Linked DNA regions of Homo sapiens. The protein of the gene in region 1 purifies or fractionates together with the protein of each later gene. This does not show direct contact. Each region holds a gene or a part of one and is shown in the gene's direction. Other genes may lie near its edges.

The links.
Region 2: the proteins of TMEM248 (region 1) and ASTE1 purify together in Homo sapiens (affinity purification with mass spectrometry; one large-scale study listed by BioGRID and IntAct). This does not show direct contact.
Region 3: the proteins of TMEM248 (region 1) and ROBO2 purify together in Homo sapiens (affinity purification with mass spectrometry; one large-scale study listed by BioGRID and IntAct). This does not show direct contact.
Region 4: the proteins of TMEM248 (region 1) and BCL7B purify together in Homo sapiens (affinity purification with mass spectrometry; one large-scale study listed by BioGRID and IntAct). This does not show direct contact.

Annotation. Positions count from the first base shown.
Region 1 is NC_000007.14:66,945,225-66,948,724, forward strand, and holds part of TMEM248 (transmembrane protein 248), read left to right. Parts: coding exon 1-37; intron 38-3,319; coding exon 3,320-3,470; intron 3,471-3,500.
Region 2 is NC_000003.12:131,016,826-131,020,325, reverse strand, and holds part of ASTE1 (single-strand DNA endonuclease ASTE1), read left to right. Parts: intron 1-1,609; coding exon 1,610-1,820; intron 1,821-3,276; coding exon of another isoform or gene 3,277-3,326; exon of another isoform or gene 3,327-3,336; intron 3,337-3,500. UniProt on the Homo sapiens protein: Structure-specific DNA endonuclease that specifically cleaves single-stranded DNA and 3' overhang DNA.
Region 3 is NC_000003.12:77,043,099-77,046,598, forward strand, and holds part of ROBO2 (roundabout homolog 2 isoform 23 precursor), read left to right. Parts: intron 1-3,500. UniProt on the Homo sapiens protein: Receptor for SLIT2, and probably SLIT1, which are thought to act as molecular guidance cue in cellular migration, including axonal navigation at the ventral midline of the neural tube and projection of axons to different regions during neuronal development.
Region 4 is NC_000007.14:73,544,191-73,547,690, reverse strand, and holds part of BCL7B (B-cell CLL/lymphoma 7 protein family member B), read left to right. Parts: intron 1-3,500. UniProt on the Homo sapiens protein: Positive regulator of apoptosis. Plays a role in the Wnt signaling pathway, negatively regulating the expression of Wnt signaling components CTNNB1 and HMGA1.

The DNA of each region.
Region 1 (3,500 bases):
TACTCAACCATCTTAGGGCATCAGATTGGACTTTCAGGTATGCAGTAGCCACTCTCCACTCAGGCTCCTTAGGCAACCACTGTTACAAAAAGAGGATGCACCGTGTATGTTTTTACTGACTATATTGTACTAGATTGTAGTCTTGCGCGTGTCTTTTTTTTGTTGAGTTTGAACTACATGAACCATTTCTGTTCCATCGTTACATGGTAAAGTACCTGGCTAGAAGTAGTTTCTCAAAAGCCTGTAGGAATGAGAAACTGTGAGAAAACTGTTAAGGCCTGTCTAATATTTACAAACATGTAATTTTAATTCAGGCTTGTCCTGTTGGAGTTTTCATTACTTACTACACATCTTCTATTGCTATTAGTTTACATATTTTTTAATGGCCATTGTTAGTCTGGCACTGTGCTAAGCTGCTGGGAAGAACTAGAAAATGACTAAGATGGCTGGGTGCAGTAGCTCATGCATGTAATCCCAGCACTTTGGGAGGCCGAGGTGGGTGGATTGCCTGAGCTCGGGAGTTTGAGACCAGCGTGGGCAACATGGTGAAACCCCATCACTACTAAAATACAAAAAATTGGCCGGGCGCGGTGGCTCACGCCTGTAATCCGAGCACTTTGGGAGGCCAAGGTGGGCAGATCACAAGGTCAAGAGTTTGAGACCAGCCTGGCCAATATGGCAAAACCCCGTCTCTACTAAAAATACAAAAATTAGCCGGGCGTGGTGGCAGGCACCTGTAGTCCCAGCTACTCGGGTGGCTGAGGCAGGAGAATAGCTTGAACCCAGGAGGCAGAGGTTGCAGTGAGCTGAGATTCATGCCACTGTGCTCCAGCCTGGGCGACAGAGGGAGACTCTCTCTCCAAAAAAAAAAAAAAAGAAGTCAGCTGGGCATGCAGGCATGGTGGTGCGCACTTGTAGTCCCAGCTACTCAGGAGGCTGAGGCAGGAGAATTGTTTGAACCCAAGACGTGGAGGTTGCGGTGAGCCGAGATTGCACCACTGCACTCCAGCCTGGGCGACAGAGCGAGACTCCATCTCAAAAAAAGAAAAGAAAAGACAATGCCTAAGATGGGCCCGTGCGCAGTGGCTCACGCCTGTAATCCCAGCACTTTGGGAGGCCGAGGTGGGTGGATCACTTGAGGTCAGGAGTTCAAGACCAGTCTGGCCAACATGGTGAAACCCCATCTCTACTAAAAATGCAAAAAAATTAGCCAGGCGTGGTGGCAGGCGCCCGTGATCCCAGCCACTCTGGAGGCTGAGGTGGGAGAATCACTTGAACCCTGGAGGCGGAGGCTGCAGTGAGCCAAGATCATGCCACTGCACTCCAGTCTAGGCAACAGAGTGAGACTTCACCTCAAAAAAAAAAAAGGCCTAACATTTGGTCTCTTCCTTTTGGAATTTTGGGGTTATGGAAGAGACAAAGATAAACGTGAGTTAATGTTTATCAAGCACTTACAATAGTTCCTGCCACAAAGGAAATGCTACGTAAGTGCTTGATAAGGGATATGAAAAAATACATACTTATAAAATGTGGAGCACTGCCCTTTGACCAGTACTAAACCCATGACAGACTGTAAGTGTTGCAGGAGAAGGGCTAGAAGGCAGTGGAAGCTGGAATAATCAGGAAAGGCTTCATATGGGACACCTGGGCCTTGGAAGAATAACCTTTTGTTCTTTGGTTACCAAAAGGCTTTTTAAAAATTGCTTAGGCTAGATGCAGTGGCTCATGCCTGTAATCCCAGCACATTGAGAGGCTGAGGCAGGAAGATTGCTTGAGCTCAGGTGTTGAAGCCCAGCCTGGGCACATAGCAAACACCTGTCTTTATGAAAAAATTAAAAAAATTAACCAGGTGTTGTGGCGTGCACCTGTAGTCCCAGCTACTTGTGAGGCTGAGGTGGGAGGATTGCTTGAACCTGGGAGGTCGAGGCTACAGTGAGCTAAGATTGTACCACTGTACTCCAGCCTGGGCAATAGAGTGAGACCCTGTCTCAAAAAAAAAAAAAAAAAAAAACAAGAAACAAATAAAAAGTCCTTCAAGGAATTTAAGTGCCCACCAGCCTCCTATTGGCTGTTAGAGGTGAGAATATTCCCATAATAATCAAGGTATGGGTGACTTCTGGGTTTTCCATGTAGCAAGTGGACCTGTTGCTTATGGCATGGCATAAGGACACCTTCGGGATTTTTTGTTGTTATTTTGAGATGGAGTCTCACTCTGTCGCCCAGGTTGGAGTGCAGTGGCACAATCTTGGCTCACTGCAACCTCTGTCTCCCGGGTTCAAGCGACTGTTCTGCCTCAGACTCCCGCGTAGCTGGGATTATAGGTTCGTGACACCATGCCCAGCTAATTTTGTATTTTTAGTGGAGACAGGATTTTACCATGTTGGCCAGGCTGGTCTTGAACTTCTGACTTCAAATGATCCGCCCGCCTCAGCCTCCCAAAGTGCTGGGATTACAGGCATGAGCCACCACGCTTGGCTATTTTTTAATTTTAATTTTATTTTAATATTTTAATTTTTTATTTTAATTTAATTTTTATTTAAAATTTTATTTTAATTTTGAGACTGGGTCTTGATCTGTCGCCAGGCTAGAGTGCAGTGGTGTGATCATAGCTCACTGCAGCCTCAAACTCCTGGGCTCAAGTGATCCTCCCTAGTACCTGGGACCACAGGTGTGCACCAGTACACCTGGCTGATTTTTAAAACTTTTTTGTAGAGACAGAATCTTGCTGTCATGTTCAGGCTGGTCGTGAATTCCCGGCCTCAAGCAATCCTCCTGCCTCAGCCTTCTAAAGTCAAAGTGCTGGGACTACAGATGTGAACCACTGTGCCTGGCAATACGTTGGTTTTAGTTTAAGCTTCATCACTTGCCTTTCTTAACTCTGAAACCCTCTGACCTCTGTTTGTTCATATGTAAAAGGGGAACAGCTGCACTTCTTCAGTCATGTTCATGGGAGAGTAGTAAATTTTAAGTGAAATAATACATATAAAAGATGTTTGAAAATGGCTAGACAGCTGTGCAGAAATGCTGGGGATAATTCACCCAGCCCGAGCTTTTCATCTCTGATCTGCCCGAGGTCTGGTTTGGCATCTCCAGGCCATGTACTGGAAAGTGGCCACTTCCTTCGCTGCTTCGTGGCTCTGAGTTGAGTAGGACTCATGGTCAGGGTCAGGACTGCTCTTCTTCCTCAGATCCCACAAAGGCAGGTGCCTGGGCTGATAGATGATTCCTGTGTGGGTTTGATTTCAGGATTTATTTGTATCCCAGAGAATGACAAGTACGTGGTTCTTGACTTTATAAAAAAATGATTTCTCTTTCATAGGCAGGGAAGCCCACGAGGAGATAAACATCACCTTCACCCTGCCTACAGCGTGGAGCTCAGATGACTGCGCCCTCCACGGTCACTGTGAGCAGGTGGTATTCACAGCCTGCATGACCCTCACGGCCAGCCCTGGGGTGTTCCCCGTCACTGTGTAAGTGTACCCGGCACCTGATGAACGTGC
Region 2 (3,500 bases), on another chromosome or scaffold:
CACATGGGATAAAACCTAACTAACGTTAAGGGCTGTGAGTTGAGTACTTCCCCTTTTGGAAGGGACTGTGGACTGGTGGGTTTGATGAAACATCTTATACAAGTCATTATAATGACCATTTTACAGATAAGTCAGACAGACTGTAGAAAAGGTCAGAAACCTTTCGACCAAAGCCATAGGGTTAGTGCAGAGCGGAACATCTCTGAAGTCAAAGCCCAGACTGCTTTGTTTATGAAAAGTTGTAACTTGGCTCTATAATTCAGTAATTTAAATATATATCAGAAAAGAGTTGGTGTATTTTCTTAGCTCTACTTAGTGCATTTTAAAAACCAGTTTAAGAGTTTAGTTTCCACTTTACTTAAAATTTAAGTAGTTAAAACTACTTCCAGTAGGGGTAATTGGTTATACTATAAAGTTCTTTGCATATTTCTAATTTTAAAATTTGTATCACAATATTATTAAAAGCAGTATTTAGAAATAATCGTACTATTTAAAGTTTTCATGCATTAATGATAAAACTATTTTGTCATTTATGATGTGTTTTGTTTCAGGTTAATATCTTTAGTCTCAGCTGTCAACCACTCTTTCTACTAACTAGATGTTACATGCTGAGAAATGTTATTACCATCTCAACTTTCCAGAAAGCAGAAAATCTTTTTCTGGCTGTGTGCAGACACTAGGAATACAACTTTTCTTTTTCTTAAAGTTTGATTATAAAGTCCCCCAGAAGATGACCTTTTAATATTCCTGAGTGCATGACCTGTAAGGTCCCCATTCTGGTTCTTACAAGGTCTTGGTAATTCATTAAGGTAAAATTATTTCAACAAGAACCTCAGTGCTCTTATAGCTGTTTTACTTCTGAGCTTTTATTTGAAGTACACGCTAAACCATGAAGTAAAAGTATGGCGTGTTACTCCAAGCACAATGCAAGTAGTCCTTAAAATATTCCTATCTCCCTTGAATATACCTCTAATCTACAAGCAGCCACCCTGGGACAATCCCTGTGTGTCTTTTATGCAAAGACAATAAAGCATTCAACAGGGAAGGGACATGAGACAGGACCCAAACAAATAGAGTATATGCCACATAGGGTTCCTAAAAGCAACGTTTGTCTTCTGGAGGCAATTAGTAATGGCATCATGCTGAAGGCAAATGCCTGTTGCACAGGCACATACAGGTGGTGTTGAGTATACAGCTTTGTTTCTCAAAGTAGAATACTTGGGCTGCTAGTTAAAATGTATATTCCTCCTGGGCTCTCTCTCAGATTAGTCAATCAAAATTTATGGAGTAGGGCCTAAGGATTGAATTTTTAATGAGCTTCCCAGGTGACGTGCACTGAAGATGCTCACCAGCGTATACAAAGAGGATGGAATGACATAAGTAAAGGTGTAGGAGTAGGCAGTACACCCATTCAACCAACCATATTTATAAAGCATCTTATTAATGTTCTAAATGCTGTGAGTGTGGCTGATTTTTTTTCCCACAAGAAGATAAGTTTAACAGCTGACAGAAGTTTCAGTAGCATTAAATCTCTTCATGCTATGGTGGAAAAAAGAAATAACAGACATTTCCCAAAGTAACTTGCAGGATACTTGGTGTGTATTTTCAGCTCTCCTTGAGGAGGCGGCAGATGCTTCTGTTAGAAACCCTGAAGGTGAAACAGACCATTCTGGAGCCAATCCCTACTTCACTGAAGTTGCCCATTGCTGTCAGTTGCTACTGGTTGCAGCACACCGAGACCAAAGCAAAGCTACATCATCTACAATCCTTACTGCTCACAATGCTAGTGGGGCCCTTGATTGCCATAATCAACAGCCCTGGTAGGTAACTGGAAATTACAGGAGTATATTGTGGCATGTTGCTTGCAAACTGTTTACTCGAGTTTACACAAACAAAAAAGTATTCTTGGATTATTTACTCCCATTAATTGTATCACAACTTAGATGTGGAGGCACCAAAATATCATTCATTCATTGGTAAATATTTTTTAACACTTCATGTGCCAGGCTCAGTGCTGGAGGGCTTGAATCTTAAGTATACAGCAGTGAGATGTGTTGGGGTACTGCCAACTTCCATCTGTTTGGTGGCACCTACTCCTTTAACTTGTGAATTGTGACAGTGTATTTTGCCAGCTGCATTTTGTATTCCATGTTACCTATCCAGTTATTAGCACAGCAGCAACGTCATCACAAGAAACTTGCCCAGAAGTGAAACTTATCTAAATACCTACAACCACTACATTCTTGCTTATACATCTTTTTATTCCTTTTTCTCTGCTGTAGGTTTCAATTAGTATGTAAGTAGTGATGGCAGAAATAGTAATTTGTCCTTTTTTTTTTTTTTTTTTTTTTTTTTTGAGATGGAGTCTCACTCTGTTGCCTAGGCTGGAGTGCAGTGGTGCAATCTTGGCTCACTGCAGCCTCTGCCACCTGGGTTCCAGTGATTCTTCTGCCTCAGCCTTCCGAGTAGCTGGGATTACAGGTGCCTGTCACCGCGCCCAGCTAATTTTTGTATTTTTAGTAGAGACGGGTTTTCACCATCTTGGCCAGGCTGGTCTTGAACTCCTGACCTTGTGATCCACCCGCCTCAGCCTCCCAAAGTGCTGGGATTACAAGCATGAGCCACCGCGCCCGGCCAGTAATATCTCTTAAATACACTGAGGCAAGTTCATCTGCATATAATACCAGGTGAAGTAAATGCTGAAACACTGGGACACTTTAATACTTCAGTGGAATATCCTCTTTAAAGATTATGAATGCTCTAACACTGTATAAACATGCATAATAATTATACTCTGGAATAGTACTATCTAATATGGTGGCTACTAGCCACACATGGCCAAAGTTAAATTCCATTTAAATTAAAAATTCAGCTTTTCAGTCACACTAGCCACACTTCAAGTGTCAGGTAGTTACATATGGCTATAGGCTAGCCTACTGTATTGGACAGCACTGCAGAAAGTTCTATTAGATCGTGCTACTCTAGTTTACTATTTTAATAAGTTAGATAAAAGAATGAAACAGCATGGATTCCTGTTTCTAAAGTATTAAGGCTCAAGCTTGACAGCTGTCAGAGGGACTGTTGTTATATGACAGCCAACTTAACACAAAACAAATCAGTTAAGTCCCACTGCTGCTTTATGAACACAGGTTTAGAGTATTTCCTCTGATTGAATAATAAATACAGTATAAGAAAGCTCTCAGAGCACAAGCCTATTAAGTTTTTACCTGAGTCCAAGAGAAGGGGCATGTCAAGGGTCTGTTTCTTTTCTTTTAGGAAATGTGGACCCTGTACCCAGGCAGGCTCAGTGTCTTGCTCCTCGCTAGTTGGTAAAAGGTGGGCCTCCTTTTTATTATTTTCAAATTGGTCCAGATGTTATTTTGTGCACCCCTGCCCAAACAAATCTGTAGAAACTTACAGCTAAAAACACACAACATTCCTTATTTCCTAGGATTGTTGCTTCTTGCCCCTTATCCTCTACTATGAAAAGAAAATGATTA
Region 3 (3,500 bases), on another chromosome or scaffold:
GATGTGGAGAACACTGCCCTCTAGGCTGTTTCAGCACTTTGAGACTCAGTGTTCACATATATAGTGAAGAGGTTGGTTTGTAGGTTCTCTAAGCTTTGTTACTCTTCCAGGATTCTATGATTTCTATTTACTTATTCTTCTTAGAGGTGTGTGCTTATACTCCACATGAATTTCAAATGTACAGAAGCCTGTACCATTTCAAAGATATACTGACCATCCTTGTGCTAGACACAGATATTAATTTTATTCAGTGACAAATGATACATATATTTGCATTGATATTTGCTTGGTGGGTTATTTATATGTGCATTTTTATAGTATATGAAAAATGGTAGCGTTTTGCCACCTCATAGAAGCTATCTGCTAATATTATTTATAATTTTTCAGTATTGTGTCCCTGTAGCAATCCATAGAGAGCAAATATTAAGTTAGTTGAGAAATGTAGATAAACTTTTCTATTTGGGATGTAAATAATGGTTTTCTTATTGATGCAGATTAATCACATCTAGACTTTTCTGTATGATCATATAGGAGAATGTATGTTAAGGTTAGCCTTTGTTTTCCAGCTTTTCTTTATTTTTGAATAAGAATAGGGTTTTGCAGTCATTTATGGGAAATTAATATGAACTATGGCAACACTTTTAAATTACATCTATATGCCATATATTACATCAATCTGATAATTTTATAATACTTGTGAAAAGGTGTTTTAAAATGAGAATGTTTTTCTCATCTTTACCCTTTAACTATTCTTAAATGAAAGTGGCACACATGATATTAGGGGAGATAAATATAGTAAAGATAATGTATGTGCATAGTGCAGATGTAGAATCTCATAGAGGTTTATACATGTTGCTAAAGTGCTCTTTTTCAGTAATGGGCTTATTATCATAGCCATATGTAGTCTATTTCAGAATTTAAATTATATATAAGTAACCTGAAATGTGTTTTTGAAGCTATGCAGTAATACCATGTTTGAATTGGCTTTGTTTGAATAACCTTTGATGCTACGCAACATGTGGACCATAAAAAAAAAGGATTTCTTAGAACATTAAGCAAAAATATTGTAAAAAAAAAAAGTAATGATTATATAAAAAGAGCAGTTCTGGCCATCTCATCCCTGAGCAGCTTGTATAAAATAGCATGTTTGACGATAAAAATATAGATATGTAAGCACATTGTATAAGTTGGGATACATACATAGCAATGAAGGGAGCTGATGTATGTGGGATGTGTGTGTGCCTAGTAATATCTGCTGAAATAGTTCCGGCAGTCTACAGGAGGTACATTTACTTCCCATGTGCAATTTGGTTTTCGAAGAGTATTAGAAAAAAAGATTATCATCTTATTTACTATTTCTCCTTTTTCTCCTTTTTTTCCTCCTTCTCCTCTCCTTCTCTTTCTTCTTCTCATTCATCGTCTCTTTCCTTTTCTTATTCTCCTCCTCTTTTTTTCTTTTTTGGATCTAATGAAAGGAATTAGAGAAACACTTGAAGAGTGAAGAAGATAGGTGAGGGTGTTTCTTGAATGATAATTTAGAAAATCTGCATTTAAAGGAAAAATGTGAATAATATTTTACCTTTAGGTATATCCAACTGGGATTTTGACTTTCTCACTTTTACCCCACAATACTATATATAGCTTTATGCAAAATGTTTTGCACGGATCCTATCATTTTCCAGTTTACACAAGTAAAAGTCGTCATATCTGAGTTCAAGCAAACAGTGGAGATTTATAGAGTGCCATTTTACAGATTTATTTCTAAAGAAAAGTATTGCTGTATTTCTTAAAGGTTCTCCAGGTATAGATCTATCAACCTAAATCAATACATTGGCATAGATATTGCTTTTCTCCTTCTTCTCTTCTTTTTTTTTCCATGTGTGCCTTTATTAGCTGAGCCACTACTTGAGGGTTTAAGGTCTTTGTGAGGGGCTTGGAACACCCAATGTTGGGGGAGGGAGGCGGGCGGTAGGGAAAGTATCTGAAAGGACTTCCTGAGCCAGCTGTAGGCTTTTCTTCTTCTTGTAAAAGAATTACTATATAAAGAATGAAGGAATGATTATAAACTCTTTTTAAAAATAAATACCTATCAACTCTACTGTTTTAGTAGTGTGTTATACAATGATAGAAGCATATAGCATCTAGGGTAGCATGCTTACCCAGAATACTTGACTCAACACAGTGTTGGAGTAACGGAGGCCTCAATCCTTAGTGTTTTCTCCTCCATTTGCAGCCAATCCTTAGGCTCTTTCATCTAATCACATGAGGTTTAAATACATGTTTGGATTGATAATTCTAAAATTGCCCTAATCATTGCATGGAGGGATATAAGATCCATCAGCACAGAACTTGGCTGTTGTATATACTGTTGATCTCCAGTGCTTGCATCAGTGCTTGACATACTCACCTGACTACTTGACGTCTTTGCTTCATGTCCAATGAGAATGTACAAAACTCAAGCCTAAGACAGAATCTTCTCTTTCTAGCCATTCCCATCACAGTAAATGGCTTCCACCATTCATAGGCTTTTTCATGACCCCCAATGAGGAACCATTTTTCACTTGTTCTCACAACTTGTATTCAACTTGTTCTCAGAATTGTGCAACCATCACTACAATCTAACTTTAAAATGTTCTTAATTACCCAAGAAAGAAACTATGTAGCTTGTTCCACCATCCCTCCACCAACCACAAGAAATCACCACTCTACTTCTGCCTCTGTGGATTTGTCTTTTCTGGACATTTTATATATAAATGCAATCATACAATATATGATGTCATTTTGTGACTAGCTTCTTTTCTTTAGCGTAATGTTTTTAAGGGTCATCCGTGTCATAGCATATGCATCAGTACATCATTCTTTTTTATTGCCAAACAATATTCCTTATCATCTATCCTTTGGTTTACTAGTTGATGAACATTTAAGTTATTTCCATTTTTGGCTATTATAGATATTGCTGCTTTGAACATCCACGTACTAACTTTTGTGTGAACATATGTCTTCATTTAACCTGGGATGGAAATGCTGGGTTGTATGTTTAGTCTGTGTTTCACATTTTGAGGAACTGCAAGACTATTTTCCAAAGCAGCTGTGCTACTTTACATTGCCATTAGCAATATATGAAGTAGATATTTTCTTTTAATTGATCATGGAAAGAAAGAGTCGAAGGGCCTTATGAGTTGGGTATGATGTTTTGAAGTGAAACAATTTTATATTATACTAATCTGTCTCAAATCCCCAATAGTCCTGATTTCTAATCCCTTCAGTGGTTGTTGTCTTCTAAGTCTTCCTCAGTTGCCTCGTAAAACTTTACAAAGATAGTACCTCAGTTGAACTTGTCACTTTTAGCAGAGATCTCAGCAATAGTAAATATAAATCATAGAATGATAGCATCTCGGAGCCATTATGAATATTTGCAGCTATATTGCACAACTCTCTTATTGGTTGGGCACATGGAGAACTGAAGCTTAGAGATTTTATGTGCCTTGTCACAGATCCCA
Region 4 (3,500 bases), 6.6 Mb from region 1:
ATTTTACCTGTATATGAAATTCTAGGTTCAAAATTATTTTCTTTCAGCACTTTGAAGCTATTACTGAATTGTACATCCAGTGTCGCTGTTAAGAAATGTGATGTTATTCCCATGCTTGAGTCTTTGTAGGTGATCTACTTGGCTTCCTGGAAACTTTAGCATTTCTTCTATATTTGATCTCCTAGGAATTCCCTCAAAATATCCTGTAATATTTCTTTTCCTTTTTTTTTGAGACTGTCTCACTCCATAGCTCATGCTGGAGTACAGTGGTGCAATGATGGTTCACTGTAGCCTCAAATTCCTGAGCTCAAGAAATAGTTATGTCTCCACCTCCCAAGTAACGGGGACTACAGGCACGTGCCACCACGCCTGGCAAACTTTTAAATTATTTGTAGAGACAGGGTCTTGCTGTATTTCCCAGGCTGGTCTCAAACTCCTGGGCTCAAGCGATCCTTCTGTCTTGGCCTCCCAAAGTGCTGGGATCACAGGTGTGAGCCACTGCACCCACGCAGCTGCTTGCTTGCTTGCTTTTTTTTTTGAGATGGAGTTTTGCTCTTGTTGCCCAGGCTGGAGTGCAATGGCACAATCTCAGCTCACCGCAACCTCCACCTACCAGGTTCAAGTGATTCTTCTGCCTCAGCCTCGCGAGTAGCGCTTGCCTCACCATGCCCAGCTACTTTTGTATTTTTAGTAGAGATGGGGTTTCTCCGTGTTGTCAGGCTGGTCTTGAACTCCTGACCTTAGGTGATCCGCCCGCCTTGGCCTCCCAAAGTGCTGGGATTACAGGCGTGAGCCACCACGCCTGGCCAACTGCTTTATTTCTTAACTTTTCTCTCATTCATTTCATTTCTTGTCTTTCCTGGTGCATTCTGAGTTTCTCAACGCAGTTTTTGCTCATTAATCTTTTATTTAGCTGTATGTATTTCAATTAACCTCATTCACTTAATTTTTATTTGAGCAATTGTATTTTTCATAACAAATTGCCTCAATTGGTTCTTCCTCAAAACGACTTTTTTTTTTTTTGAGACAGAGTCTCGCTGTGTCACCCAGGCTGGAGTGCAGTGGCATGATCTCATCTCACTGCAGCCTCCACTTTGCAGGTTCAAATGATTCTACTGCCTCAGCCTCCTGAGTAGCTGGGATTACAGGCATGTGCCACCATGCCCAGCTAATTTTTTTCTATTTTTAGTAGAGACAGGTTTCACCATATTGGCTAGGCTGGTCTCGAACTCCTGACCTCAAGTGATCTGCCTACCTTGGCCTCCCAAAAAGTGCTGTGATTACAGGCTGTGAGTCACTGCCCCTGGCTAAAACAACTTTTCAATATTATCCTTATCTTTCTGAGCAAATCCATGTTTAATTTCAGTTATTCTGCTCCTTCTGGTACAGACTGTTCTGTTTATCAGGGTGCCTGTGTTCCTCCAATCTCTGGTGAGTTTTATGCGTGCACTCACCTTTTATTCCCTTGGGACTCTCAATTGCATTGGCTGGTAATGTGTAACTACGAGGAGGACGGAAGCCTGATCCGTAGTTTTTCTTTCTTTTTTTTTTTTTTTTTTGAGATGGAGTCTCGCTCTGTCACCCAGGCTCGAGTGCAGTGGCACGATCTTGGCTCACTGCAAGCTCTGCCTCCTGGGTTCACGCCATTCTCCTGCCTCAGCCTCCCAAGTAGCTGGGACTACAGGCACCCGCCACCACGCTCAGCTAATTTTTTTGTATTTTTAGTGGAGGCGGGTGAAAACCGTGTTAGCCAGGATGGTCTCAATCTCCTGACCTCGTGATCGGCCCACCTCGGCCTCCCACAGTGCTGGGATTACAGGCGTGAGCCACCGCGCCCGGCCAGTTTTCCTTTCTGTAAATGAATTTAGGAGGTTGAGGTTAGCCTCAGGGTTCAGCCTCTCCCTTTTGCTCTCTGCTGTCCTCTCTGGCTCCAGGGAACCTCCTAGCACCAACTGTATGGACTCTGCCTTTATCTGAGAGCAGCCATCCCAAGAAGTTCTAGGATGCCAAACTCATGGAGTTGATGGGGCGTGGTTCTGGAGCAACTGTTTATTCCCCCATCCAGCCTGGCTCTGGCCATTACCCACAGGGGTCAAAGGTCAAGCAGTTAAATCTCTTGGGCATTGTGTATAGACAGGAGTAGATGCTGCTAGAAAACCCCCTTTCCTTGGCCGAGTGCGATGGCTCACGCCTGTAATCCCAGCACTTTGGGAGGCTGAGGCGGGCGGATTGAGACCATCCTGGAGCCAGGAGATCGAGACCATCCTGGCTAACATGGTGAAACCCCATCTCTACTAAAAAATACAAAAAATTAGCTGGGCATGGTAGTGGGCGCCTGTAGTCCCAGCTACTCGGGAGGCTGAGGCAAGAGAATGGCGTGAACCTGGGAGGTGGAGCTTGCAGTGAGCCGAGATTGTGCCATGGCACTCCAGCCTGGGTGACAGAGCAAGACTCTGTCTCAAAAAACAAACAAAAAATTGAGTTATTAACAAAAATTACGTTACTAATATAATGCATCTACCGGAAATGTATAAAAAGTGTGAACTGGTAAATTTGAGGCTACTCAGATTTAAACTTTTGGCTTTTGGGATGCTCTCATTTTCATATGCTTGGATTTACTCTGGGCTTTTTTTTTTTTGAGTTAGGGTCTAACTGTGTTGCCCAGGTTGGAGTGCACAGTCATAGCTCACTGCAGCCTCAAACTTTCAGGCTCAAGCGATCCTCCCACCTCAGCCTTCTCAGTAGCTGGGACCACCAGCCTATGCCACCATACATGGCTCATTTTTTATTTTTTTGTAGAGATGGGGTCTTACTATGTTGCCCAGGCTGGTCTCAAACTCCTGGGCTCAAGGGATCCTCCCACCTCCGCCTCCTCAAGTGCTGGGATTACAGGCATGAGCCACTGTGCCTGGCCCTTGGGCTTTCTTGTTGCAAGCTGGTGCTTACCTGCCCACTGTGGTTGCCCTGCACTTATAACCTACATCTTTCTTGAAACAAATGTTATAGGTAAAAATAAACATGGGGTGATCATTTTGTTTTTTGGGTTTTTTTGTTTGTTTCTTTTTGAGATGGAGTTTCGCTCTTTCGCCCAGGCTGTTATGAAGTGGCAGAATCTTGGCTCACTGCAACTTCCACCCCCCAGGTTCAAGCGATTCTCCTGTCTCAGCCTCCAGAGTAGCTGGGATTACAGGCACATGCCACCATGCCAGGCTCATTTTTGTATTTTTATTTATTTATTTATTTATTTATTTTATTTTTTGTTTTATTTTATGTTTTTTTAGATGGAGTCTCGCACTGTAGCCCAGGCTGGAGTGCAGTAGTGCCATCTTGGTTCACTGCAACCTCCACCTCAAGCAATTCTCCTGCCTCAGCCTCCCAAGTAGCTGGGATTACAGGCACATGCCACCACACTCGGCTGATTTTTGTATTTTTAGTAGAGATAGGGTTTCACAATGTTGGCCAGGCTGATCTTGAACTCCTGACCTCAGGTGATCCATGCG